Linked DNA regions of Homo sapiens. The protein of the gene in region 3 purifies or fractionates together with the protein of the main gene of each other region. This does not show direct contact. Each region holds a gene or a part of one and is shown on either strand. Other genes may lie near its edges.

Region 1 (6,870 bases), on a different chromosome or scaffold from region 3:
CTCTCCTCTCCAGAACCTCCCACATCATGGGGATGTATGTTGGGATCACGCCTCCCGCCATCTCTGTATGTCCCCTCCTCAAGGCTGTGACAGCAGCTCAACCCTTGGCTGTGCTGGGAGATGAACCTGCTCCCGCTCCCAGCCCTGCCAGGCAAGGACTCCGAGTGAAGCTTGTTTGGCCACAGAGCTGCTTGCCTTTTTCCCTGACCATCAGAAGGGAGGCCAGAGCTGACAGAACCTAGGAGTCAGAGACAAAGAACTGGGCACTCCTAGATCCTTCTGGATTGGTCGGTTAACTGCTGGGTTCCTTTGGACAAGTCACTTGGCCTCTCTGAGCCTCAGTTTCCTCTCTGGCCAACTGAGTGTCGCCCCATCTCACAGGGCTTAGGGGAGGTGGCACATGCGTAAAGTCCCGTCAATGCTAAGGTGCTCTGCGGAAGTGAGAGTTGATGTCAGAGAGTAAGGGTGGGTGGGAGGCAGAGGGAGCCGGGGAAGGATGAGCTGGGGCCGGACAGGCCAGATGAACCCACTGCCAGAGGCGGGCATCAAAGGGCCAAATGGGAGGCCCACGCCTGGGAAGCTGTCTCACCACACCCGCTGTACACGGGCGGCTGAGGACTCAGGGTCCTGCCATCCCAAGGACTCACAATGTGCTTATTCCACAGGCATTTTTCACTCTCGCCAGAGATATCAAAGCAAAAATGGACAAAAAATTGGTGAGTGTGTGTCCTTCCGAGATCCCCGGGTGGATCTCTGGGATCCAGCCATCGTCGTTAGCAGCAGTGATATGACGTGCCCTAGATCCTGCTTTTTAGGGCCCAGCCAGACCCCATGGGACATTGCTGGGAAAGGGGGAAGAGTTTGCAGGTGTGGCTGGGGCATCAGCATCAGGCAGTGCCAGCCTGGGGACGCTGCCCAAGCAGACAAGGCCGTGCCCGGTGAATCCCCAGGCTAGCAGGGAGCACACGGCCTTTTCCATTCCACTCAAGGGCCAGAAAGACAACATGGTGTGCAAGGACAGAGAGCCATGGCTCGGAGAAAAGCTTCCTAGGTCGCTTGGGCAGGGCCAGGGCTGGTGTCTGATAACTGCTGGCTCATCGTCTTGACAAGCATGGCAGATCAAGAACCTGCCCCCGCTCCACCCCAGCCCCAGATGCTACAAGTTGTGACAGCTCTGCAACCTTCATTGTGTCCCAGGGTTCTCTGAGGCCTCCAGGGAAGTCTGCATGAATCCCTACCCATCTACCCTCTCATTCGTTTCTTGCTTTTTTTTTTTTACCACGTTAGCGATTTCCTAGTCCGCTGCGCTCAGTATCAATGGTGCTTTCTTGATGGAATCAAACACTTCCCTGTACTTTGGGGGCATTTAGTGCCTAAACACCGTAGTGACCCTTCCTCCCTCGCCCTGGTTCCAGCAACTGCCCTTTCCCGGCCATGTTACATTGGTTGTCCAATCGAGGAGCACACGGCGCTCTATTTGTGGGTTAAGTCTGGTCACTTGAGAATGCACATAAAATACAAAATGCCGTTCAAGTTTTACATCTGATGTAAGCAAATCTGTTTTGTAATTCTAAGATGCGGTGTGTTGAACAGTGAGGCATGTGATTGATTTAATAGCAGCTCTTTGGCCATTAAATTAAAATGGGAAACAGTTCATGGAAACCAGTGCACTGACCAACAATAATTTGGGATTTTCTTGCAATTTTTTTTCTTCAGTATAATGGTCAAGGTCTGATTCTTTTTTCTTTTAGTTTTCTTATTAGTTAAAAAAGAGATTTTTTTTTTAGAGTCTCACTTTGCCACCTAGGCTGGAGTGCAGTGGCACCATCACAGCTCACTGCAGCCTTCAACTCCTGGGCTCAAGCAATCCTCCCACCTCCGCCTCCCAAGTAGCTGGGGCTATAAGCACACACCACCATGCCTGGCTAATTTTTTTTCTTTTTCTTTTTTTTTGAGAAGGAGTCTCGCTCTGTTGCCCAGGCTAGAGTGCAATGGTGCAATCCCTGCTCACTGCAACCTCTGCCTCCCAGGTTCAAGCGGTTCTTCTGACTCAACCTCCCGAGTACTTGGGATTACAGGCACATGTCACCACGCCCAGCTAATTTTTGTATTTTTAGTAGAGACGAGGCTTCACCATGTTGGTCAGGCTGGTCTTGAACTCCTGACCTCAGGTGATCCACCTGCCTCGGCCTCCCAAAGTGTTGGGATTACAGGTGTGGGCCACCCCGCCTGGCCATTTTTTCTTTTTTAAGAGGCAGGATCTCACTTGTTACCCAGGCTGGACTCAAACTCCTGGGCTCAAGCAGTTCTTCTGCCTCAGCCTCCCAAAGTGCTGGGAAGGGTATGATGGGGTGGGCAGATAAGTGAGAGAGTGGTTGGAAGGGGTGGTATATAGCAGATGGAAAATAGATCTGTTTCTGAAAAACGAATTATCAGTTGTAAGAGAATTGGATGGATGGGTAGAAGATAATGGATGGATGGTTGGTTGAAAGGGAATAAATCGATGGTTGATTTGTTGGAAGGAGATGGTTGGATAGATAGATGATTGGTTTGTTGGTTGGTTGGAAGGGGATGGATGAATGGTTGGTTGGAAGGAGGTGGTTGCTTGGAAGGGGATGGATGGATGGTTGATTGGTCAGAAGGGGTGGTTAGAAGGAGATGGTTAGTTGGAAGAGGGTGGATGGGGGGAAGGAGATGGATGGGTGGATGGATGGTTGGAAAGGGATGGATGGATGGTTGGTTGGATGAGGTGGTTAGAAGGGGATGGATGGTTGGTTGGTTGGTTGGAAGGGGATGGATGGTTGGAAGAAGATGGATGGTTGGAAAGGGATGGATGAGTGGATGGTTCTTGGTTGGAAGGGATGGATGGTTGGTTGATTGGTTTGTTGGTTGGAAGCAGGTGGATAGACGGATGGAAGGGAATGGGTGAGTGGATGGATGGATGGTTGAAAGGGTATAGATGGATGGTTGGTTGGTTGGTTGGTTGGTTGGTTGGTTGGTTGGTTGGTTGGATGGTTGGAAGGGGACAGCTGGACGGACTGGCAGATGATGGATGGATGGTTTGATGGCTGATTGGTTGGTTGGATGGCTGGAATGGTAATGGATGGATGACCTGGCAGATGATGGATGGATGGTTGGATGGCTCGTTGGTTAGTTGGTTGGTTTGGCTGGTTTGATTGGTTTGGTTGTTTGGTTGGTTGGTTGGTTGGTTGGTTGGATGGTTGGATGGATGGTTAGGTGGATGGTTAGGTGGATGGCTGGTTGATTGTGAGACGTAGTGCTGATTCTCAGTGATAACCTCAGAAAACCTCTTGTGATTTCAGGAAGGCAACAGCCCCCAGGGGAGCAACCAGGGAGTCAAAATCACACCGGACCAGCAGAAGAGGAGCAGCTTTTTCCGATGTGTTCTTCTGTGAGGAACACCGCCTTACTCTGAGCCTCGCTCAGCCCAGCTGACTGTGCCTGTTCTGAGTGAGCCCCTCACTCAGCCGGGGCCCTCCCACCTCCAACGCCCCGCCCACGCCGCGGCCACCGGGCCCACGGCCACCAGAATGCAATTGAGAAATCGTTTATTTTAGTAACTGTCTGATCTTTTTCAACTTTGGAGATGGAATAAGTTAAAAATTTGCTATTTTTCCTGTAACATCTGCTGAACGGGCCCACCCACACGTTGTATATTCAGAGAGAGAGAGGGAGTCAAGGTGTGACCGTCGACCACAGCCAGTGTCAGGCCTCTGCCTCTGGGCCTTTGCTTTGTGGCCTCACTGCAACACAAAGCTCCACCAGGAGGCTGGTTCACGTCCCCTACCACGGAAGCGAGGTCCCAGAAGGCCAGCGGTGGTTCCAGGAGCAACAGCTCCCAAACCCTGAGCAAGGCAACCGATCGCCAGGACCAGGAAGCATCACCCAGGAGATTTGGCGCCCACTTCCACCTCTTCTCTCAGTTTTGGACAAGTGACAAACCATTTTGCCCCCTCACTCTTCTTTTTTAACTGTTAAACCAAAGGAAAGCACAAATGAAGGAAATCCTGTGTAAAGCATTGAGAAGGAAAGAAGCCTGGAGCAGCCTCTCCTGTCCACAGCCAGGGGTTAGGTCTGCAGGCCCGTCTGCGGTCCCCATCGAGCATCAAGGGGACGCTGTGTGTGCTGCAAGTGACCCCGAAAACAACCACAGCCGTCACATGGTCCTCCTGAAGTTGGGGCACCCTCCTCTCAGCACCAAAATGGCCCCCACTCCTTCGTGTCCTCCCGCTATCTCCAAATCGGACGTTCTTTCTAGCTGAGATTTTTATTTTTCCACATCTGTAGTGCCATGAAGCGATTCTGTCTTTGACTTCCAATGGCAAACCTGGGTGATCGGGAACAAGCACGTTGTACCCTTGGCTGGACATGGCCAAGACACAAGGCATTCCACGGCGGCAAGCTGACCGCACAGCAGTCTGGCTTGATTTTCAGCCGTCATCATTGGGTTCTGTTTTGACAGCTCTGCTGTCCCATAGGGACTGCGACTGGGACCAGGTCAACCACGCCAGGGGGGTGTCACCAGCCTTTTCTTTTTTTCTTTCTTTTTTTTTTTTTCCTCCTTAAGCTGCTGTCAATCCAAACCATTGGCATCATCGTTTCTTTTGAATTAAAACCAACATATCAGCAATAGTCTGCTCTCCCCGGGAATCTCTAACATGCTCTGTTTACATCGATAAATGCACTTAAGGAAAACAAACAAATTAAAGCTCATCTTAAAGTCCAAGGATTTTTATGTCCACATTTTCCCTGTAGGCCACACGGACATGGCCAGGTGCTGGGGGTGGGTCTGGACAAGATGGTAGAGCCCATGGATTACCCCATCGAGCGGCCACCTCAGAGGAGATGCCACCCATCATCAAAAGACTAAATTGGGAAAAGAAGCCTCCTGGCTTGGTGCAGTGGCTCACACCTGTAATCCCAGCACTCTGGGAGGCCAAGGCGGGCTGATCACTTGAGCTCAGGTGTTCGAGACCAGCCTGGCCAACATGGTGAGCCTGCGTCACCTGGCTTCTGGCACACAGCTCGGCCACTGTGTCCCTCCTGCCTCCCTGGCAGGTCCTTCTAGGGGCCCTCTCCTGGCTGGCTTTCCAGGGCATTCCTTCCACTCTATCCAGGGTCCTTCCCAAGACCACACCCAGGTCCAGTCATTCCCTAGGACTTGGCAGAGAGCTGTACTCACAGCCAAGATCACAGCAAAATCAGCAAAGGGAAAAGGCATGCAGAGTGAAGTCCAGAGGCAACCAGACAGAAGCATCCAGAATCCTCTCACAGTGGGGTCACACACCCCATGCTTAACTCCCCCAACAATGAGTTGTAACAACAGGTGTGTAATGTGTCTTTTGTGAAAGCTAGTTGGCAGTTCTGTACCCAGGTGTTTATGGAGCCAGTCACATAGGAACCCTCTACCTGGCACTTATCAGGATTCCAGACTCCTACAAAGAAAGCAGGGGTTTAGCATAAACCGCATCACTTGTACAGAAAGTGTATGAGCCACGCATGTAGGGAAGTTTTAATATCCGTAGGGAACTTTACCAACTGCAGGCCCACCTTGCCAGCAGGCCTTTCTCAGGAAGCAGCCTCAGATCTATTCATTCTTTTCTGCACACACTATGCTTTTAGATAGGCCAGTGGCTTTCAAGCTGCAAATCCAGGCCAGACCCAGGTCGGTTTCACCTGCCACTCTCTATTCCAATTTGAATGTCTCATCGGCACCGTAAGCATAACACAGCCCTGACCCTGGACTCCATCCCTGCCTTCCCCATCGTGCCCACAGCTGACCCCTCCCGAGTTGTAGCCACGACCACCTGGACCTCTGTGACCACTTCCTCATGGGTTTCAGGTCCTCACCTCTGTGTTTCAAACTATTTTCAGAGTGTCCTTACGAAACTGAAATCAGTGTCACCTCCTTGCTTAAAGCTCTCCCCAGGGGCTGGGGTGTGTGGCTTATGCCTATAATCCCAGTGCCTTGAGAGGCAGAGGCAGGGGAATAGCTTGAGGCCAGTTCAAGTTAAAGACCATCCTGGACAACATAGTGAGACCCCATCTCTAAAAAAAAAAAAAAAAAAGTACAAAAATTGGCCGGGTGCAGTGGCGCATGCCTCATCCCAGCACTTTGGGAGGCCGAGGTGGGTGGTTCACCTGAGGTCAGGAGTTCAGAGTTCAAGACCAGCCTGGCCAATATGGCAAAACCCCATCTTTACTAAAAATACAAAAATTAGGCATGGTTGCACGCGCCTGTAGTCCCAACTACTCAGGAGGCTGAGGCAGGAGAATCGCTTGAACCTGGGAGGCAGAGGTTGCAGTAAGCCGAGATTGCGCCACTGCACTCTAGCCTGGGTGACAGAGCAAGACTCCGTCTCAAAAAAATAAAAAATAGTATGGTGGCATGCACCTGTAGTCCCAGCTACTCAGGAGGCTGAGGAGGGAGGATCACTTGAGCCCAGGAGTTGGAGGCTGCAGTGAGCTGTGACCACACCACTACATTCCAGCCTGGGTGACAGAGCAAGACCCTTTCTCAAAAAAAAAACAAAAAACCTCCCCAGGTCTTCCTTGGGCTTAGGGATACAACTTACGCCCCTCACCGTGGGGCACAAGCCTCTACACGCTGCAGCCATAGCCCTGCCTACTCCTTCCTCTTTCTCTGGCTGCCCTTCCTGGCTCACTCCACTCCAATCCTCTCCTTCCTTACTCCTTCACTCCACACTCATCACTGAGAAGGCCCCAGGGCCTTTGCACTTGCCACACCCTAGTCTTGTAGTCTCCTGAAATGTGCAAAGCCCACTGTCCATCACATCATGGTTATCCAGGGCTACCTCTGCAGAGGCCTCTCCCAGTCATGCCCTTCTC
Region 2 (3,895 bases), on a different chromosome or scaffold from region 3:
TGTGCTCAGCCATCTATATCCATTTTTAACATGAATTAGATAACTACATTTTGCTCCACTCCTTTTCACTTAATCAGTTGAGGTTGCCTTTTTAAAACTATGATACAGTAATAAAATTGGTCTAAAAAGGCAGATAACAGAAAAGGGCAGTTTTATTTCTGTGACGTTACATATACCTAACACTGGTTTCATACAACTTGCTCCACAATGCCTTTTAAGTACTAAACATATTCAGAGGTCAGGGCTAGAAGATAACAAAATCTATTTAAGAGTTAGAGCTGAGAAGATTTCAGAAGCTTTATAAAGGCATGCCAGGAAATGTCTACAATATTTCACAGCTTGGAGGAAGCAGGCAAAAAGAAAATCAAAACAAAGCTTCCAAATCTTTACTTTGCACGGAGGGGAAACCTATCTCCTGTGATTGTAGTTGTATTTTGTTGTATAAATTGACATAAGAATATTCCTGTTGAATCGTGATTTTATCCATGGCAGTGTTTTTTCATGAGTTATTTTCCTTGTGTGTTTGTTGCAGACCCCTGTAAAAGAGCCCAACAGTGAAAATGTAGATATCAGCAGTGGAGGAGGCGTGACAGGCTGGAAGAGCAAATGCTGCTGAGCATTCTCCTGTTCCATCAGTTGCCATCCACTACCCCGTTTTCTCTTCTTGCTGCAAAATAAACCACTCTGTCCATTTTTAACTCTAAACAGATATTTTTGTTTCTCATCTTAACTATCCAAGCCACCTATTTTATTTGTTCTTTCATCTGTGACTGCTTGCTGACTTTATCATAATTTTCTTCAAACAAAAAAATGTATAGAAAAATCATGTCTGTGAGTTCATTTTTAAATGTACTTGCTCAGCTCAACTGCATTTCAGTTGTATTATAGTCCAGTTCTTATCAACATTAAAACCTATAGCAATCATTTCAAATCTATTCTGCAAATTGTATAAGAATAAAGTTAGAATTAACAATTTTATTTTGTACAACAGTGGAATTTTCTGTCATGGATAATGTGCTTGAGTCCCTATAATCTATAGACATGTGATAGCAAAAGAAACAAACAAAAGCCAGGAAAACACTCATTTTCGCCTTGAATATGTAAATGGGATTAATTTTGTCCTGTGCCTTATGTGGAAAGGAACTTCTTTGGTTTTCCTTTTTTGTTCTGGTGGAAGCATGTGCAGGAGACATATCATCCAAACATAAACCATTAAAATGTTTGTGGTTTGCTTGGCTGTAATTTTCAAAGTAGTTAATTGAGGACAAAGGGTAATGCAGAAGTGATAGCTTTGGTTTGCTGAGTCTTGTTTTAAGTGGCCTTGATATTTAAAACTATTCCTGCCACCATTTCTTCTCCTTGGCCACTTCTTCCTTGCGTCTCCCTGCATGCTGCTTTATTTGCTTCTCCCTCCCCAACCACCTCATGGTATATTTAAGAGTGAAAGGGACAAACTAGTAGGTTTGTCAAGTTTAATATAAAGCACTGATGTAACTTGCTAGGTAAACGGAAAGATAAGTTCTAACTGCCTACTATCCAATGTCAGTTAATTGGTGTCTTCCCCCCTCATTTGCTCTCTTCCCTAAAATGTGTCCCAGATGCCTTCATTTGCTGTTTTACTTCTATGTTCTGCTTTTCCTCCTCTCTTTGTTCCCTTCCTGTCTATCCATTGAGTTTATGAAATGGAAGAGTTAACTGCATGCACTAGTGTTTGGAGGGTGTTGTGGTTTGTCTTTCTAATTAGGTGTATAGCCTATTCACTTTCCTAGAATAAATCTCTTAACCTAAATTTGAGTAGTCTGCATTTTGGCAACTCCTCTAGCAGCTTGGTAGCCTAGTACAGGTTGTTTTTTTAAAAAAGGAAAAGCAGGAAGGAGGAGTGAATTTTATTAACATGTTTGCCAAATGTATTGAGATTTGGCCTCTGAAGAACACTTTTTCAGTGTTAAGTTTCTTTACCTTAAGATTCAGAAATACTTTAGAATATTATTAATTTTAAGTCCTGTCTTTACATCCTTTTGGAAAACTTGTATTACCATGGGTTTGGAAAAAGGACAACGAAAGGCTTTTCATGTAAAGATAAGATCTTTAGCTATCTCTAACCCTGTCCTTTTTTCACTGCATTTTTTCTAGTTTTGCTTCATTGCTTATCATTAGGATAGGGTAAGTGAAGTTTGCTATGCTGCTAGCATCCTAAGATGATACCTTTGTTGAAAGAATTGTGAATAGCATGATTCATTTCTAGCAGAGGCTGAGTTTAGGACAGCAGCTTCCATTGAGAAGTCTTTCTGTGTCGTGAATAGCATTTTAATGACCTCTTGGCTCACATAAGCAAACAACATAGGGACGTATCTGCTATGAAAATCCACAAATTTTTCAGATAGTGCCCTAAAAACAATTTTATATGCCTCACTGGTTGTTATTCTTAGGTTATTCCCACACTTGACTTTATCATTGTTTACTACTAGTAAAAAGCAGCATTGCCAAATAATCCCTAATTTTCCACTAAAAATATAATGAAATGATGTTAAGCTTTTTGAAAAGTTTAGGTTAAACCTACTGTTGTTAGATTAATGTATTTGTTGCTTCCCTTTATCTGGAATGTGGCATTAGCTTTTTTATTTTAACCCTCTTTAATTCTTATTCAATTCCATGACTTAAGGTTGGAGAGCTAAACACTGGGATTTTTGGATAACAGACTGACAGTTTTGCATAATTATAATCGGCATTGTACATAGAAAGGATATGGCTACCTTTTGTTAAATCTGCACTTTCTAAATATCAAAAAAGGGAAATGAAGTATAAATCAATTTTTGTATAATCTGTTTGAAACATGAGTTTTATTTGCTTAATATTAGGGCTTTGCCCCTTTTCTGTAAGTCTCTTGGGATCCTGTGTAGAAGCTGTTCTCATTAAACACCAAACAGTTAAGTCCATTCTCTGGTACTAGCTACAAATTCGGTTTCATATTCTACTTAACAATTTAAATAAACTGAAATATTTCTAGATGGTCTACTTCTGTTCATATAAAAACAAAACTTGATTTCCAGCTGTGTGGTTTGGTTTTCATTTATTTATGGAATTGGAAGATTACTTCTGAAAAAAATGTGGAATCGCAAACTCAAAGAGTTGACAAAAATGGGAAATCACTGTCAACCTATGGAAAACTGGAAAGGCAATTTCAAGAACTGTCTTTGCTGAGAAACTACATTAAAAAATAGAATTATCTCTGGGATCCTAAAGCGGAATCATCCTTGTGCCAAAATAGGAGATGCCACGATCCTAATCACACCTGGCTTACACTAGTTGGATGTGCCTAAGGCCACTACAGCTGAGGTCACCTGATTCCTCAGGGGGACCAAGCTGGGCTCCTCATACTGGAGGGTAAATCCTTGTTTTAGCAGCAGCTGGCCTCTTACTAAGAAACAAAGTATTGGCCAGGTGCGGTGGCTCATGCCTGTAATCCCAGCACTTTGGGAGGTCAAGGCGGACGGATCACGAAGTCAGGAGATGGAGACCATCCTGGCTAACGTGGTAAAACCCCGTCTCTATTAAAAATACAAAAAAATTAGCCGGGCGTGGTGGCGGGCGCCTGTAGTCCCAGCTACTCGGGAGGCTGAGGCAGGAGAATGGCGTGAACCCGGGAGGAGGAGGAGGAGGCTGCAGTGAGCCGAGATAGCGCCACTGCACTCCAGCCTGGGCGACAGAGCAAGACTCCGTCTCAAAAAAAAAAAAAAAAAAAAAAAAGTATTGGCTGGGCGCTGTGGCTCACGCCTGTAATCCCAGCACTTTGGGAGGCCGAGGCGGGTGGATCACCTGAGGTCAGGAGTTCAAGACCAGCCTGGCCAACATGATGAAACCCCGTCTCTACTAAAAATACTAAAAGCCGGGCGTG
Region 3 (4,514 bases):
GATCACGAGGTCAGGAGTTCAAGACCAGCCTGGCCAACATGGTGAAACACCGTCTCATCTCAAAATACGAAAAATTAGCTGGGTGTGGTGGCATGCACCTGTAATCCCAGCTACTCGGGAGGCTGAGGCAAGAGAATGGTTTGCGCCCGGGAGGCGGAGGTTGTGGTGAGCCGAGATCACACCACTGCACTCCAGCCTGGGCGATAGAGGGAGACTCCATCTCAAAAAAAAAAACAAAAACTTGAGCCTTTGGCAGGGCCTCCACTGAATCCCCGAGACATCGCCAAGTGTCTGAGCCAGGAAGGCCCTTAGAGCCCATCCAGGCCAATCCCCTCTTCATCCAGGTGGGGAAACTGAGGCTAAAAAGGGTGGAGAGGTTAACCTAAGATCACAGGACAGCTGGGCTGTGAGTGGGGGTGCCTGCCCTGCTGGGATGGAGAGTTTTGTGCTGCATTGATGCAGAACCTCCTCCCGCCGCGTTCCTTAGATCTGATGGGCATGTTTGAGAAACGGCGCTTCCGCAAGTTCCTGGTGTTTGTGGCAAACTTCGATGAGAATGACCCCAAGACCTTTGAGGGCGTTGACCCCCAGACTACCAGCATGCGTGACGTCTACCGGAAGTTTGATCTGGGCCAGGATGTCATCGATTTCACTGGCCATGCCCTGGCGCTCTACCGCACTGATGAGTGAGGGGAAGCTGGGTGGTGGCAGCCCCCTCGCCCGGCCCGCCCCCACCCTTCCCACACCTGCCTGCTGTCCCCCTGCCCCGCATGTCTCTTGTACTCAGCCACAGGCTCACCTATCACCCTTTCCATTTCCCCCTTGCATTTGATCCTCATCTTCCCCAGGCCATTCAGGGTGGTGGGAAGACTGGCCTGGTACCTGGGTGGGGGTAAATCAGGGGTGCTGCTATTCCCCCAGCTACCTGGACCAGCCCTGCCTTGAGACCGTCAACCGCATCAAGTTGTACAGTGAGTCCCTGGCCCGGTATGGCAAGAGCCCATATTTATACCCGCTCTACGGCTTGGGCGAGCTGCCCCAGGGTTTTGCAAGGTGAGGACATGGGTTTTTTCAGTTGGCATAGCTGAGTAGGACTAGGGCCAGGAGTGGAGATGGCCGCCTTGAGCATTTTCTTGGTAGTATTTCCTCCTTTCCAATTCGTGCTCTTCATTTACTTCACTCCATCCTTGGGTGATGAGGGCACAACCCCAGTGCACTGAAGTACAGAAGTCTCCACACTTGAAAAAACGAGTCTCCACAAATGTGACTTGCTCAGTTCCCGGCAGCACCAGGACTGGGCCCAGGGTCCCAGAACCTTGAGTCAGGGCTTAGCTGGGAGCTGACCTATCTCCAGAGAGTCCATTCTGGTCCCTCAGGCTGTCTTGGTGCGGAGCACTGATCCCTCATGCCCCCTCCCGCTGGCCCTTGGCAGTGTATTCTGAGCAGAAGCTCCAGAGAGGAAAGAGCCCGCGGAGATGGGGCCAGCGTTCACGGCAGTGACAGAGCTGGGATGAATCCCGGCGTCTCCTACCTGCTGCCTGCCTGGGGCAGCCTTCTTTGCACTTTGGTGGAGGAAGGGTGCAGTGGAATTGGTCCCCGTTTCTCCTGGGAGGGGCCTTCACCGGAGCTGCTCTCACCACAGATTGAGTGCCATCTATGGGGGGACATATATGCTGAACAAACCTGTGGATGACATCATCATGGAGAACGGCAAGGTGGTGGGCGTGAAGTCTGAGGGAGAGGTGAGCCCTTCCCGTGCATGCAGTGCAGTCCCATGGTTGAGGCGGGGCTTGGTCACTTTCTCTGTGCTGTCGAGTCTCCTGCTGCACAGCCCCAAGGGTCTTGGAGCTGGGAACTGGGGGTCCAGAAGTCTTCAGAGTCATGACTGTGGGTGAGAGGTCTCTTTCAGAGGCCACATGCCATGTCTGTGGTGCAGAAAGTGTTCTTGATCACAGTGCCTCTGGGGGGCGGGGGGGCGGGCACCCAGCCCGTGCGTCAAGGCCCACCTATCTGAGCGGCAGGGTAGGGCCATGCATTCAGGAGGGGCAGTAGTGATGGCTCCGAGGAACGTCTTGTCTGCCAGAGCTGCCTGCCCTTGCTGTGAGCGCAGCCCCACGTCTACCTAAGGGAGGGATGTGACAGGGGCGAGGACTTCTGGTGCCTTCTCAGGTGGCCCGCTGCAAGCAGCTGATCTGTGACCCCAGCTACATCCCGGACCGTGTGCGGAAGGCTGGCCAGGTTATCCGCATCATCTGTATCCTTAGCCACCCCATCAAGAACACCAACGACGCCAACTCCTGCCAAATAATCATCCCCCAGAACCAGGTCAACAGGAAGTCAGGTAGGCCGGGCGCTGGTACAGCTTCCTCTAGGGTGTTCTCTTTGGGGTTACTCTTTTTCTCCCCATCAGTGTGGGAGCTCCCTGCCTTACCTCTCTGGAAAAAAATTTGAGCCACATTGTAGCCACCACAACTTGGAGCCCTAGGGTTTGGGTGGCCTGGACTCTTTCCCTCTGGGAGGGTGGCGGCTTGGATGCTACCTGCTCTGCGGGGCTGGGGAGGGGCAGTCGGGCCAGACTTGTGTCCAGCCACTGGAACCCCTCTCTGCGTATGGCCAGCGCCTCTGGCCTGAGTTGACGGAGCTCTTCCTGTGGCCAGACATCTACGTGTGCATGATCTCCTATGCACACAACGTGGCGGCCCAGGGCAAGTACATAGCTATTGCCAGCACTACTGTGGAGACCACGGACCCTGAAAAGGAGGTGGAGCCGGCTCTGGAGCTGTTGGAGCCCATTGACCAGAAGTGAGGGACTGGGCTGAGCCCAAGGGGGAGAGGGAGGGAGCCCAGCAGCTGGGCTTAGGGACCAGGAAGGGCATGGCCCATTGTGAGGCCTGTCCCCTCCCCTCTGTCTGCCCCTCAGGTTTGTGGCTATCAGTGACTTGTATGAGCCCATTGATGATGGTTGTGAGAGCCAGGTAAGCAGCTCGTCCCAGCCCTGGGCTCCTGGCTGCCCGCCCAGGATACCTGTCTGACTCACCCTGGGCGCTGGGCTCTGGCTGTTTCCAGGTGTTCTGTTCCTGCTCCTACGATGCCACCACACACTTTGAGACAACCTGCAACGACATCAAAGACATCTACAAACGCATGGCTGGCACGGCCTTTGACTTTGAGAACATGAAGCGCAAACAGAACGACGTCTTTGGAGAAGCTGAGCAGTGATTGTGGCCGCCCCCAGCCCCTGCTGCCCCAGCCTGTGTCTGTTCTCCTCGAGGGCTCCAGCATCCTCTGCTTCCCCCACCACGTTCCCATCACCCACCTCATTGATCCACTGACCAAATCCTTAACCCTAGCGATGGCTTGGGAGATGGGGGGTTGGATAGCATCCTCTTTCTTGGCCCTTCCTTATCCTAGGAAAAGAGGGTTCCTCTCCTTGTGTGTGTCTCTTCCCCCCACCCCTAATTCTTCTGCTCTGTTTGGGAAGACGTGGAGGAAAAGGTGACTTCTGCCCCCACCGCTCTTACCCCCACTGTAGTGGCCTTTGGAGATGCCCCCACCTCCCCCCCACCAACTCTCGCGTGTTGGAGAGAAGGGGCCCTCCCAGCACAAAGTTGCATTCCTCCCCCCTAATTTATTCTAATTTATTAACTTTGACCCACCCTTTCTGAGCCTGCAGCCTTCCCGTGTGGCCTGAGGGCTGTCGAGTGAGCTGCCCCAGCCCCTCCCAGCCCTTGCCCAGCCTGGGGGAGTGGGGAAGGCTTGGGCATGGCCCCGTTGGAGGTTGATTTGCTGTTTTGTTTCTTGTCTTTGTGTTCTGTGGTACTTGCTGAGAGAAAAGAAAAGTGAGCCAAGCAGAAGGAGGTGGGAAAACGGACCCAAACCCCAGTGTGCCCTGCCCCATGCCTTTCCTTTAGTGGTGGGAAACCCTTATCTTGCAAAGTGAATGTGTCCCCTTCCCCACCCTCTAGTGTATTTCACAGAAAACAAAACCTCCCAATAAAACGGTTGAAACCTGAATCTCTGGATCTTGATGGTTATCTCCCAAAAGCTGGGTACCTGGCAGGGCTTTGGCTGCCTGGGTTGGGGCTCTGGCTTAGCTTCACTCTGGACTGTAAAAGGTGGCATTCTTCACCAGGGAATTCCTCACCCAGAGCACGCTGGGGCCAAATTGACTTAAAGCTTAAGGCTACCCAGTGAGTCGATGCTGGCACCAGGACTGCAGCCCTCAGTGCTCAATGCAGGGGGAGTGTGGTGGAGGGCGGGTGTCAACGTGGAGGAAGCAGAGGGAGCGGGGGTCCTGGCCTCTGGCTTGAAAGGAGAGGGCAGAGGGGACCAGGGGCCAGCCTCGGATGGGATTCTAAGTGAAGCAGGGAGACGGGTGCCAGTTTTCGGCTTAATGCGGGGGAACTAGGGCAGCCAGGGGACCAGCGTTGGGGTCACCAGGAGGAATTAGAGGGACCGGGGCCCAGCCTTGGCTCGGGTTAACGTCGAGGCAGCGCGAGGGGCTGGGGAATTCA
Region 4 (7,130 bases), on a different chromosome or scaffold from region 3:
AGGGGTGCCCAAGCTGCAATCGTGGTTTACGACATTACTAATCAGGTAAGTGAGCTAAGAAGACTGTCCTTGTTGGCTGGACATGGTGGCTTACGCCTATAATCCCAACACTTTAGGATGCCAAGGCGGGAGGATCATGAGGTCAAGAGATTGAGACCATCCTGGCCAACATGGTGAAACCCCGTCTCTACTAAAATTACAAAAATTAGTTGGGCGTGGTGGTGCGCGCCTGTAGTCCCAGCTACTCGGGAGGCTGAGGCAGGAGAATCGCTTGAACCCAGGAGGCGGAGGTTGCAGTGAGCCGAGATCGAGCCACTGCACTCTAGCCTCGGCGACAGAGCAAAACTCCGCCTCAAAAAAAAAAGAAAAAAGACTGTCCTTGCTTATATTTAGAGGAGTTAGTTTGGGGCAGGGGGTAAGGGGGCAGAAAACGGGTTCTTGAAATAGCAAATAAGAGTACAAATTATGCTTCCAAGTGCTAAGAAGACAGATAATGAATTATCAGAGACCTGTGGTTTCACTGAGGGAAGACCACCTAGAAGAGGTGAATTTTGAGACTCATTTTAAAAGGTGATGGATATGGATTGGCAGTCATTCCAGCCTACTCATTCTCTTCATGTTTTCCTAGGAAACCTTTGCCCGAGCAAAGACATGGGTGAAGGAACTACAGCGACAGGCCAGTCCTAGCATCGTTATTGCCCTGGCAGGGAACAAAGCTGACCTGGCCAACAAACGTATGGTGGAGTATGAAGTAAGGTGGCCCGTGGAGTTCCTCTCTAACACTTCCTCTGTTCCTGGGACCTCTTTTTTTCCAAACCAGCCCTCTCTGAAAACGTCAACAGAGGACATTCATTGTCTCATTCCCCAGTTCTACACCAAGTTAAATACAGCAACACTGTGACCCTAATGACAGCCAGGAGATTTTCAAAGGAGTCAGGAGAAAACTCCAGAGCAGAGGGTTAGGGAGGTACCAGCTGTGGGGGTACCAGTGTGAAAACAGGAAGGAGGGAGCAATTAAATTTGTGGTAAGGGACTATTCAAGTGTCACAACCCAAAAGCCCCCAACTAACTTACCCTCTCCCCTATAATTAAGCTTTCTGACATTTGTGTGTTGGACTGAGTGGACATGGGGTCATCTTGAGGGAGTTGTCATTAAATTATGCATCTAGGCTAGCTGGCTCAAAGGGGTATTAATTAAGGGGAGGGAACCTAGGATTTTGCCTAGCTGTTGTGCTGCATGGGAGTGGAAAGGCAATACTCGTTCCCACCCTACATTCTGAGCACTAATACATCCCACTCCTTGCAGGAGGCCCAGGCATATGCAGATGACAACAGCTTATTGTTCATGGAGACTTCAGCCAAGACAGCTATGAACGTGAATGATCTCTTCCTGGCAATAGGTAAGGTCAGAACATCCTGAGGTCCTCCTTTTTCCCTCGTTTATAGGCAAAATTATAGCTAACCCAAATCAAGGATAGGTGCGAGTATCTCCTTTTGCAAAAACTTTAGGTATGGAAATACCTTAACTTTCTGTTATGACCTCCATCCTTGGCTGCAGCTTTAGCTCCCTTGTCTTCAATGTGTAAGTTTGCCGGCCAGGTGTGGTGGCTAACACCTGTAATCCCAGCATTTTGGGAGGCCGAGGCGGGCGGATCACGAGGTCAAGAGATCAAGACCATCCTGGCCAATGTGGTGAAACCCCGTCTCTACTAAAAATACAAAAATTAGCTGGGCGTGGTGGCGCACACCTGTAGTCCCAGCTACTTGGGAGGCTGAGCCAGGATAATCACTTGAACCCGGGAGGTGGAGGTTGCAGTGAGCCGAGATTGTGCCACTGCACTCCATCCTGGCAACAGAGCGAGACTCCATCTCAAAAAAAAAAAAAAAGTTTGCAAATAGTGAACCCTCCCATCTTCAGAACATTCTTTTAATCTCTCAAATTCTCCCTTTTCCCCAATTCAGTAGCCGTTTTTGGCGGGTGGAGGCAGAGGGGTAGGGAAGTAAAGTCTACCATACTTTGTTCTCTTCTCTTTTTATCTCTAGCTAAGAAGTTGCCAAAGAGTGAACCCCAGAATCTGGGAGGTGCAGCAGGCCGAAGCCGGGGTGTGGATCTCCATGAACAGTCCCAGCAGAACAAGAGCCAGTGTTGTAGCAACTGAGGGGGTGGCTAGCAGCAAACAAGTATGGAGCTAGCACAAGAGCTAAGAAATAACCTCCATCCCTACCCCTCAGCACACAACCCCTACGGTAACAGCACACTGAGCCCTGGCTCCCAAGGGCTGCCTCCTGACAGCTCCGTCATGGCACTTTTTAACGCTTCAGCAACAAACACCAGGCAGCTGTTGCCACTGGCCTCCTACCCCCTACTCTGGGGCTTGGGGGTCAACTCCCCCCAGGACTTACCTTCCAAAACAAACTTTCTTCACTTTGTATTATAGGTACAAGACAGCGACTTACGTATCTTTTCTCCTCCTCCCTAGTGTTCCTCCCCATTTTTTCAGAAAACACTTCTGACTCCTGTCCCTTCCCCTTCTGCTTTTGGTCAGTCCCTGTTCTTGAGCCTCTTTTCTCCTCTCCCCAGGATGCAGAAAGTGGTGAACCCAGGAACTGAGGAAGGAGGTTTCCAGTTCATTTACATTAAGGGCCCTGGGGGAGAATAAAGCTCAGAGCAGGAGGGAGTAAGGAAACATTTCCTTTTTGTTTTTATTTGGTTGGAGTTTCTCATATTTGAAAACATTGCGGTATCCATGATTTGGCCTTGTGGAGGGTGTTCCTAGGTAGAGGTGAGAATGGGGAGGCAAGATCTCAGGCACCAGGCAGGAGGTGCCTTGTAAGCTAACTGGGCGGAGGTGGAGGTGCAGTGTCAACTGTGGCTCTGTAACTCTTCAAAGGCCCAGTTTCCCCTCACGCAGCCTCTTAGGTAGCGTTTCCCCTAATCGTGGGGGTTGGACCCCAGAGTCTTCCAAAGAATTTTCACTGGTTGCCTGCATCTTTGGCTCTGCTGTGATCTGATTGGAGGAGGGACAGTTTCTGGTACCCATCCTCTGATTTATACATATGCATTTTTTCCCCTCTGGCCTTTAGATGGCCTCAGCCCCAGCCACCATATACCCCTGCAGTTTGCACTTTAATTGATGGTAGTTCAGTTGGGGTACTTGTTTTATGGAAGTTTTGATTGATTTACTTGCCCTCCCACCTTCTTTTTAATTCAATGAAATCTGAGGTTAATGCGAGGTTCGAGGAGAGGTTATAGATAAAACTACCAGTGGCAGCTACTCAAGTCCTATCTCCACTGTTAGCTTCCTCCAACTCTAATTATTAACCTATATTCTTGCCAAGCTAACTATTGACTATAGGTTTGCCTTTCCTGGAGAATTAATTGAGCAATTGAGGAGTGTCTCAGGATAGCACAGGCCAAGGTAGGGGAGTAAAAAGGAGGTCAGGCAAAAGGGAGGAGTTTTCTGTCCTTTCCCAGGTTTCACACTCAATTTGATATCCATTACCATGTCTTTTCTACTTCCTTGTAAATAGGTATGATCTTTATTCCCACTGTACAGTCTGTTCTATCCTCTGCCTCCCATCAGGCCCTGTTTCTTTGTTCCTTTGTTAATATCTTGAATTTAGTCCCTCCATCCTTAATCCCCCCATCCCTCCCCATCATGCAACCAGTGGTTTAATCCATGTACCAATAGGGGCTAGTACCACAGAGGCCTCCTGTGGTGCCCTCGTATCATACCACCTGTTCCTGTGGAGAGGGAATGACCGGCACTGAAGGTACCTTACAACTGGCTCATATTATCAGAGGACCTTGGTCCTTTCTAAATCTCTAGTCTCTCTTCATATCCTTCATCAGGTGTTTTAAGATGTCTCTGAGAAGCCATCAAGGCAAAAGAGAACTTTAAGTTCCTTGTTCCAGCCCGGAGTTTTGGGAAAGAAAGAAAGGAAAGGTCACAGTGACCTAGGATTGGAACCTTCCTGCCCTTTTGGCTTGCAGACTGCCTTCTATCCCAGAACAGCTGAGAAATCTATGAAGCTGAGATTCTGAAGGACCCAGCTTAGGTTCTTCCACTTAGGCCTCAATTCCCTTCCTTTTCCAGGGGCAGCCTTAGTTCCCATGGCCCTGAAACACACACATTTCCCCCTTCCTTTCCCAGAAGCCACTGGCCCCCCATAGCACCCAGTGCATCCTTTTTACAAGTGGAAGAACTAGGATGGCTTTCCAAAGTCTTCTAGAAATGAAGTTCTTTCTCTGTGCAGCTTTCCCCCTTGGAGCAGGAGTGAAGATGTTTCATTATCTTGGGCCTGGGAAACCACTTCCCCAGGCTTCTCCCTCCCCCCACCCCCATAGGAACAGGATTTGGCCTTAGCTTCTGGGCCTATCGGCTGCCTTCCCTCTACTTCCTACCACCTCTTCTGCCTTCCTTTGAGCTCTGTTGGGCTTGGGGATCTTAGTTTTCTTTTGTTTATTTCCCAGCTCATTTTTTTCTTCTGGTCAGTTTTTTTAAGGGGGGGTGTTGTGGTTTTTTGTTTTTGTTTTGCTTCTGAGAAAGCATTTGCCTTTCTTCCTCTCCCAACATAACAATCGTGGTAACAGAATGCGACTGCTGATTTACCGATGTATTTAATGTAAGTAAAAAAAGGAAAAAAAGAAAAGGGCATTGGAGTGTTGCTTTTTTTTATTTTATTGTTATTATTATTATTATTTTTGCTATTTGTCAGGTACTAGGAATTTGGAAGAAAGGATACCCAGTAATGTTCTACTGAATCAGAAACACACCTTTCCCTGCATCTTGATACATCTTTATTCCCTTTAATCTTTTCTTAAACATCTAGTTTAGAAAATAGCCCTTCTATTGCTATTTAATCACCCCTCTTCTAAGGCCACTAGATTGTTCATCAAATCAAACCCTATTATATCTTTTTAGGCCCTCTTAACAGAATGTATATGTGTAGGGTATGGTCTGTGGATCTTTGGGCCCACTGATCAGATTAGAGAGAGGGGTGCTATTTGAAGTAGTATACAAAAATGTATGTGCATATTTCTTTTTTTTTTTTTAATTGAGACGGAGTCTCTGTCGCTAGCCTGGAGTACAGTGGCACGATCTTGGCTCACAGCAATCTCCGCCTCCTGAGTTCAAGTGATTCTCCTGCCTCAGCCTCCTGAGTAGCTAGGATTACAGGCACGCACCAACACACCCAGCTAATTTTTGTATTTTTAGTAGAGACGGGGTTTCACCATGTTGGTCAGGCTGGTCTTGAACTCCTGACCTCGTGATCCACCCACCTTGGCCTCCCAAAGTGCTGGGATTACGGGCGTGAGCCACTGCGCCCGGCCGTATGTGCATATTTCTAGGATCCATTTCTATATGTTTCTCAAAGGGGTCCATGACCCAAAGGTTGAAAAACATCACTGAGTTAGTTTTCTTGTAGCTTCCACCTCAACGGGAAAATTTCCTCTGGATCTGCTCTTGACTCCTAGTGTACTTCAAACCCTTCAGTCCACCACAGTCTAAAGGTCGAGGGAAGGGAAATGAAATAGGATTATGTGTGGTTGCAGTAGGCTTTAAATTCCAAAGAATCTGAAGGTGGATAGGAAAGAGGACTGGTGCCAGACAAATCTGACATTCTAGGCCTGTCTCTGTCAACTTAACCAGCTGTGGCCTTGATCAAGTTAGTTAGTGCCTTCCGCCTCGTTTCTTCATCTGTAAAGTAAAAGCTGAAGATTAAGGTCAATTATGTAAAGTATGTGTGTCACACAAAAGTAGATGACACTATTAGGAAGGAGGCTTTTAGATAGTCCCTAACTGACTTCTCTGTATCTTCCTTTGGCTGAGACTTTTTTTTTTTTAGGTTGAAGCTCGCTTTCTCTCTCTCTCCCTCTTTCTCCCTCTCTCTCTCTCTCTCACTCTCTCTCTCTCCATATATATATACATATATATATATATATATATTTTTTTTTTAACAACTGGTAGGATAGGTTGGGCATTAGCCTTCTTCAGTGATTTGATTGTATACAGATTGAAATCCTTTCCATTTCCAAACACTTAAGAGCCAAAGCCAACTTGCCAACTTTTCACTGTCGGTTCCCTTACCTTATATCTCTTGGTAATACCCCCCACCCCCGTTCCCTGATTCCTGGTAAAAGCTCTAGTTGGAGAGCCGAAAGGAAAGGAAATGATCTTTCAAAATTAAAGGTGAACACCTTCACTTAAACTGATTAAAATTGCAGCTCCACCGTCCGGCCTCTAGAGGGCAGTGTATGGATACATTTGTCCAGATTGGGGGACTAGGTTTGATAAATTTTGTCCTGCATCAAATGACAAAAGGGTAATAGGAAATGTATTATATTTATGCCCCTTACTTTGAGATAAGAGACTACAACCTTCATACTTCGGGGTGTTAAGCTGCCATTGCTCTTGTTAAGGGGCAGTTTGTTTTTTAAGAGATGGGGTCTTGCTCTGTTGTCCAGGCTGGAGTGCAGTGCCGCGATCTTGGCTCAGTGCAACCTCGAACTCCTGGGCTTAAGCGATCCTCCCGCCTCAGCCTCCCGAGTACTGGGACTACAGGCGTGTGCCACCAAGGGGCGATTATTATTTTTTTTTTCTACGCAAAATAAAAGACGGCTATTCAGTGTTGTTGTTTCATTTTTGTTTGGGGAGAAATTCGACTAGCCCAAGGAATCTCAAATTCTTGGAACCACTATTTTAGGCATTTCTGTTATCATTCCTGGAATACGAGAACTAAGCGATTGACTTTGCTTTCCCTAAAAGATAAACAGGGTAGTTGTAGTTGCAACAGAGTAGATAGAGGTAGGTCTACCCTGGGTTTAAAGTGGAGATCACAGCCGGGGAAAACCGGACTGGATCCCGAGGCCTCCTCCAGGGAGGGGCGGCAGGGGTGTCTCAAAATCTCCCACCTGTCAGCCCAACTTTTGGATTCCTTGTCACCTTCCACACTGCCCGAGCTCCGGACATACAGCCCTGGTGCACAAGGGTCCCATTCTTTGCACACCAGGGGTATAATGGACTCCGGACTGTTGGCGAGAGTGACAGCAAAAAGAGCCAGCCTCTTCTCCCAGGCTTCTTAGCAACCTGCCTGTCTCGGCTCCAGGAGGCGGGTTCCAGCCAATG

What was found.
Region 1: the proteins of GDI1 (region 3) and RAB8A purify together in Homo sapiens (co-immunoprecipitation; 7 studies listed by BioGRID and IntAct, with this or other methods). This does not show direct contact.
Region 2: the proteins of GDI1 (region 3) and RAB10 purify together in Homo sapiens (co-immunoprecipitation; 5 studies listed by BioGRID and IntAct, with this or other methods). This does not show direct contact.
Region 4: the proteins of GDI1 (region 3) and RAB5B purify together in Homo sapiens (affinity purification with mass spectrometry; 4 studies listed by BioGRID and IntAct, with this or other methods). This does not show direct contact.

The regions. Positions count from the first base shown.
Region 1 is NC_000019.10:16,128,889-16,135,758, forward strand, and holds the end of RAB8A (ras-related protein Rab-8A), read left to right. Parts: intron 1-665; coding exon 666-716; intron 717-3,323; coding exon 3,324-3,416; 3' UTR 3,417-5,346; downstream 5,347-6,870. UniProt on the Homo sapiens protein: The small GTPases Rab are key regulators of intracellular membrane trafficking, from the formation of transport vesicles to their fusion with membranes.
Region 2 is NC_000002.12:26,134,406-26,138,300, forward strand, and holds the end of RAB10 (ras-related protein Rab-10), read left to right. Parts: intron 1-532; coding exon 533-616; 3' UTR 617-3,049; downstream 3,050-3,895. UniProt on the Homo sapiens protein: The small GTPases Rab are key regulators of intracellular membrane trafficking, from the formation of transport vesicles to their fusion with membranes.
Region 3 is NC_000023.11:154,439,454-154,443,967, forward strand, and holds the end of GDI1 (rab GDP dissociation inhibitor alpha), read left to right. Parts: intron 1-487; coding exon 488-686; intron 687-921; coding exon 922-1,053; intron 1,054-1,642; coding exon 1,643-1,742; intron 1,743-2,169; coding exon 2,170-2,341; intron 2,342-2,657; coding exon 2,658-2,802; intron 2,803-2,920; coding exon 2,921-2,975; intron 2,976-3,066; coding exon 3,067-3,219; 3' UTR 3,220-4,014; downstream 4,015-4,514. UniProt on the Homo sapiens protein: Regulates the GDP/GTP exchange reaction of most Rab proteins by inhibiting the dissociation of GDP from them, and the subsequent binding of GTP to them. Promotes the dissociation of GDP-bound Rab proteins from the membrane and inhibits their activation.
Region 4 is NC_000012.12:55,990,054-55,997,183, forward strand, and holds the end of RAB5B (ras-related protein Rab-5B), read left to right. Parts: coding exon 1-45; intron 46-628; coding exon 629-751; intron 752-1,306; coding exon 1,307-1,400; intron 1,401-2,043; coding exon 2,044-2,159; 3' UTR 2,160-6,630; downstream 6,631-7,130. UniProt on the Homo sapiens protein: The small GTPases Rab are key regulators of intracellular membrane trafficking, from the formation of transport vesicles to their fusion with membranes.